Regions from separate parts of the Homo sapiens genome. Here region 1 is linked to region 2. The links come from fine-mapping of genetic effects on gene expression. A gene starts in region 2. The other region holds a variant in brackets. All regions are shown on one strand. Distances are from middle to middle.

What was found. PIP is the estimated chance that this variant, and not a neighbour inherited with it, causes the effect. A credible set is the group of variants that fine-mapping cannot tell apart.
Region 1: its variant is the best candidate, but not a certain one, in a credible set for the expression of ARRDC4 in whole blood (INTERVAL, PIP 0.60).

What each region holds. Positions count from the first base shown.
Region 1 is chr15:98,161,300-98,164,202 of GRCh38, reverse strand. No RefSeq gene overlaps it. Among named protein-coding and RNA genes, the nearest start is that of LINC01582, 74 kb to the right of the region's middle. The variant C/T (reference allele first, on the strand shown) is at 1,789.
Region 2 is chr15:97,959,211-97,962,113 of GRCh38, reverse strand. ARRDC4 (arrestin domain containing 4) reads right to left here and starts at 1,411. Exons shown (of 8, transcript NM_183376.3): 1 at 946-1,411. The coding sequence starts at 1,252.

The DNA.
Region 1 (2,903 bases), 200 kb before region 2:
ACCCTCGTAAAACACATAGGTCCAAGTTACCTCATTTTAACTCTGGGAGGTACATTATTTTACCCATTTTTTAAAAAGGAGAAACTGAAGTCAGAGGGCTAATGAGTAGCAGAAAAAGGACACGAATTCAGGGTTCTTACACTTTAAATGTTCTAATTTTGGATTATGTAGAGGAAACGATGTCTGCTTTTACTTGTCCCAGTAGAGCTGTGTTATTATAATCTCTCTGCTTCGGGTAAGCATTCGGGGTGTCCCAGTTGATGGCAGTGGCAGCCTGTCTGGAGCGGCCGCTTTGAAGATGCGGCTTGCAGTGGAGGGAGGCGTGGCCAGGGCTGCAGTTCCATGCAGCCAGCAGGAGCTGGGAACAGGCGGGAGCCCTGGCCCCTTCTGAGTTGGTGGGGTGGGAACCCAGCCCTCACAGGCACAACTGCAACAGAGAGCCGAGGCTGCAGACCCAGGCATCCCTGTGCTCTTGAGCCGGGGAAGCCTCCCTGTCTTCGCAGGCTCAGAAGTGCCTGCTCCCGCTTCCTGGCTTCTCCCTGCTCCTGGCGCCCACTCCTATTTCCGAGTAAAGTTGAGGCTGAGCCTGGGCACTATCGCCACTCGGCCAGGTTTGCGTGCGCTTGGGGCGGTGCTGACACACCAGCCCTATGCTACTTTGGCTCCATTTGGACTTTGGGTGCAATCGAGCACGGGAGGGAGGCCACAGGGGCTGAGGGTGGCTTGGTGGGGCCTGCAGGAGCTCCTCCGCAGGAACAGCCTGGGCACCATGGACAACATGATTGATGGTGGCAGGAGGCAGACAGGCTTCTCAGCAGAAAGGGGCAGGTCCCGGTGAAGCACCACTTTCAAGCCAGGGATGGCCTGAAGTATGGGGGCCCAGCTGTCAGTTCTGGGTGAAGTCTGCGGCCCAGAGTGAGAACTTATGGTGCTTTTTCTGGCCTGCCCGTGGCTGCCCATGGGCCAATCGGCATGCACTTCTTCCCTTCTGAAGCCCTTAAAAATCCTGGACTCGGCCGGGCGCGGTGGCTCACGCCTGTAATCCCAGCACTTTGGGAGGCCGAGGCGGGTGGATCATGAGGTCAGGAGATCGAGACCATCCTGGCTAACAAGGTGAAACCCCGTCTCTACTAAAAATACAAAAAATTAGCCGGGCGCGGTGGCGGGCGCCTGTAGTCCCAGCTACTCGGGAGGCTGAGGCAGGAGAATGGCGTGAACCCGGGAAGCGGAGCTTGCAGTGAGCCGAGATTGCGCCACTGCAGTCCGCAGTCCGGCCTGGGCGACAGAGCGAGACTCCGTCTCAAAAAAAAAAAAAAAAAAAAAAAAAAAAAATCCTGGACTCAGCCAGACTCACAGACACATCAGGACTAGCAGCTGTGGAAAGGAGCTACCCACTCCAGGTCTCCTCCACTCATTCGGACAAGCTGCCTGCAGAAAGGAGCTACCCACTCCAGGTCTCCTCCACTCATTCGGACAACCTGCCTGCAGAAAGGAGCTACCCACTCCAGGTCTCCTGAGAGCTGTTCTGTTGCTCAATGAAGCTCCTCTACGCCTTGCTCACCCTCCAGTTATCCATATTCCTCATTCTTCCTGGACTCTAGACCAGATCTTGGGACCTGCTGAATGGCAGGACTGAAAGAACTGTAGCACAAACAGGGCTGAAACACATCCCCTGCTCGCCAGGTTGCAGGCAATGAGGAGAAGTACTGCAGCTTTTTGGGGAGCCCAGCCCTAGGGGTTCCCTGACCCAGGGCTGACACCCTCTTTGGGGCTCTGTGGTTCCTGGCA[C/T]CTCCAAGCTTCTGGGAACCACTACATTCCCTCATGCCTGCAGTGGAAGCCACCTGCAGTACACCTGGTCCAGTCACAGCCTTGCAAGGAGCTGGTGCCTGTGTTGGTGCCTGGAGCTGCCTGCCCCGCTGTAGCTGGCATGCCTGGCTGTATGCAGTGGCTGGACCTCATGCTTGCTCACATACCTGTTGCCACTTCATGCCTGGCTCACCCTTGGCAGGTATGGGATCCAGGCTGGTAGCACAAGCCAAGTGCAGCCTGCAGGGACAAGTGGGCAGAATGAATGCAGTGGGCCCAGGCAAACTCAGGAAAGGTACCACCAGCCACATAGGTTTCCACCTGGAAAAGCAACACCCTAAGGATCCTGTGACACAGTAACTTGCCCAAGGTCAAGCCCCGGAATGTACAATGTCCAGGATTAGAACTTCTGTCTTTCCAAACCCAATTCCTATTCTTGCCCCACTGCAATGCTCTAAGTCTGAGCAAGCCATTTAATAAAAGACGGCCTTTTGAAAAAAAGTTCAAAGAAATCAGGGGCCTAGTGGAAGCCGGGATTGTTCGATGATGACTTTCAATTTTACCTGCTCCTCTCATGGCCCAAGCCTTTGGTGAGTCAAAGATGTCAGCTCTGCTTGATCAGTGGCCCTAAGTGCAACGTATTGGTTCACAAATGTAGCTCCTGGGGGTCTGAGGCAGAAGCTGATGAGATCCGTGTGTAGCCCAGTTGGTGTGCTGGGAAATCTTGTTGTTTCCAGCTCTAAAGAACAGAGAGACCTGGAGAAAATACTTTACCTGACTGCCACCTTTTTTTTTTTCAAACCTGTAAATTCAGGGGTCTAGGCTAGAGGGTCTTTAAGGCTCTCTTTTGCTTGGAGACTATTTGTAGCATTACAGTCGTGTGCCAAATAGTGATGTTTCCATCAACGACAGACTACATTTACAATGGTGGTCCCACAAGATTTAATACTGTATGCTATGCTTAGATACACAAATACCACGAGTTACAATTGCCCATAGTATTTAGTGCAGTAACATGCTCTACAGGTTTGTAGCCTAGGAGCAATAGGTCATACCATACATCCCAGGTGTGTAGTAGGCTCTACCACCTAGCTTTG
Region 2 (2,903 bases):
CATTGTTTTATTTGATAGATAAAAGCTCATGGCAAAAACGTAAAAGTTTAAACTAGTTTCCATCCATGAAATGAGTAAGACTCATGGTTCTTAGTATTTTCGTGACTAAAGGGATCCAATTTTGGTATCTAATATTAATGAAACGCTCATGTAGTGTGTCCCCACATGGGTACTTCTGGAAAAGTCTACACTGTGAACTGGACTTCACCAAAGTGAGCAGGAAGGGAAATCCCGACACGCCCTGATGCTCTTGTCTCTAAAGGCATTTTGAGTGGAGAGAAGTGGGGGAGAGGGGAAGAAGCGGGTAGGAGGGGAGGAGGAGGATGGGGAGGAAGAGGATGCGGAGGAAACAGCAGCAGTATCAGGTAGAGGTACAACTCTTACTAAGTTGCCCTGCTCCCCAGAAGAGGGAAACCAAGCATGATGATCAAGTCTGGAAAACACTTCCTTTGAACTCCTACCCCTCAGAAACTACTTCCCTATTCCCCAAACCAAATTTCTGCTAATTCATCATGAACCAAGAACGTATGCAGGATAGGGAGGAGTGGAGGCCATAGGACACGGGCACCGCAGAATGGAACCTCATAGCCGCCGGTTCCACCGTCCCTTTCTTGGACCAGAAGGAACAGGACCTAGATTTCTGGATCCCCCATTGTCCAATCACAGGTTCCCACCGCACCCAATGGCCCCCTCCCGTCGCGGTCCTAGAAAATCCCGAGCCACTGGTCCCGGTCAGGCCCGGCGGGCCAGGGGCGGGGCGCCAGGAAGAGCTGCGCACCCAGGACTTGCGGTCTCTCCTTACCCGCGAGGGTAGGCCGGACCCCACCCCCGGAAGCCCGCCCTGATCTCACCTGCCAGGTGGGCATCCCGAGGGTGCGCGGCCTCCCAGCCCCTCCCCGGCCCCGCAGCCTGGCGGGGGAACCCCAGGCGCTCGCCTGCGCTTACCGGCCGGGGGCTCCCGCAGGCTGAGGCGCACGTTCAGGTACTCCACCTCCGAGAAGACAGCCAGGGCCGCGGTGCTGGCCGAGGCGCGGGGGCAGGTGCTCGGGCCCCAGGCGGCGGTGGCGCGCCCCTGGGCCTCCAGGCGCAGCGCGCGCAGGGCCACCGGCTCGGACGCCTCCAGCAGCACGTGCCCGGCCACTGTCTCGCCGCTGGAATAGCAGCCCTTGCGCTCGTCCTCGAACACCAGACCCAGGCTCTTCACGCGGCCCTCGGCACCCACGGCCGCCGCGCACCCAGCCTCCCCGCCCATCCCGCCGGGCGACTCTTTCCTGCCCCTGAGGTCGGCAGAGGCCCGGAGCCGGGGTCGCGAGCACAGCGGCGCCGCTGTCACAGGCGCTCGCGGCAGGGTAAGGCCGCCGCGGCAGCCGTGCGGTACCCGATGGGGCACCGGCTCGCCGAGAGGCCTGTCGCTTTAACAAACCCAGTTGGGCCTGGAAAAGGGCCGGGACAGCCCACCCCCGGCGGGCGGCCATTGGTCAGCTGCGAGCCCTGCTTCTTGCTGATTTGTTGTAGATGGTCACTGAGTCATTTCATTGGCGCTCCCACGCGTGGGTGGGCGCAGGAAGGCCGTGCGTGATCAGGGAGTGTTGGCCAATCGGGAGGCTCCGGCGTGCACGTGCACAGGCCGTTTACTGGCTGAGGCCAGGCACAGTCCTGGAGCCCTGGCCAATAGTGAGGCGGTGCGCCCATGTGGACAGACAGTGGGAAACAGTATCTGTCAGGGAGGGGGCGGAACAGGGTTATCTCCGGCTCTCAGCGTGTCAGCCGTTCCCATAGTTACGAACGGGGGCGGGGTTTCTAGCAGCGTAAGGACTTTGCAGGAGCCACTGGGTTCTCGCTAAAGCATGAAGTTGTGGCTGTAACTGGCTTGTGTTTATGATTACATCTGCAATACTCGAGGGGAAATAGATGCTCTGGGAAACGGAACTCGGCAATATTTCCTTTTGAGATCTTGGGGGCCGGCCGCATCGGGACTTTAATGAATGACTTGGAATCTTCTAACCTCCAGGTTTTTGATCACCGCCTCTCCCAGGTTTCAGAATTCCCAGCCCATGTAAGAGCCATAGATAAGAAAAATGAGGGTTGTGGTTTTAAACCTGATACATCCCCTAAGGAGTTCTCCTCCTAAGCTCCGCAGTGTCGCTGTTAGGAATAGCTGGAACTCTGATTCTTCCTGCTGTAAATAAGATCATGAATCACATTGTTTTTGAACAACATCTGTCACTCAAGTTTCTGCCCCACCCGAAAGTTTCCTGACATCATTGTCATATCCACAGAAATTTCCAATTGCCTTGATGACTTGTTCCTCACGCCCAAGTTTCCTCCGGCTTGTCCTGCTACATTTTCCTTTTCAACCTTCCATTTTTTCTCTGTTCTGTTTTTTACCATCTTGCATAGCTGTCATTAGCTGGTCATCATTTTCTTAACTTTTAAGTTGTCCCCTTATCGACATGCCACGTTTGTGAGCTGTTATGTATTGATTAATCTCACAATGAAATTTAGCAATTTTCCTAAAAAAAAAACCTCAAAGTAAAGGTTGCTCTACTACCCTCGTTGAGTTTAGATTATTAATGTGGAGATTTAGTAAAGTTTTATAAGTTCAAAATTTCCTTATTACCTCTCAGAGAAAGTGGAAAAGTCACAAATTAGGCTCTGTGTAAAGTTCAGAAATAGTTGCTATTCTCTGACCATTTCGTCTAGAATAGCTCCCTACATGATCTTACTCTGCCTACTTTTTTTTTTATATAACACAACGTGACCTTACGTGTTTATCTATGTATTATCCATCCCACTCATTTGAAACACAGAACTTGTTCTCATTCGTTTTTTGACCTCTAGGGCCTAACACAGATCTTAGCATACAGTAAGTGCTCAATAAATGTTGAGTGATTGAATGATGT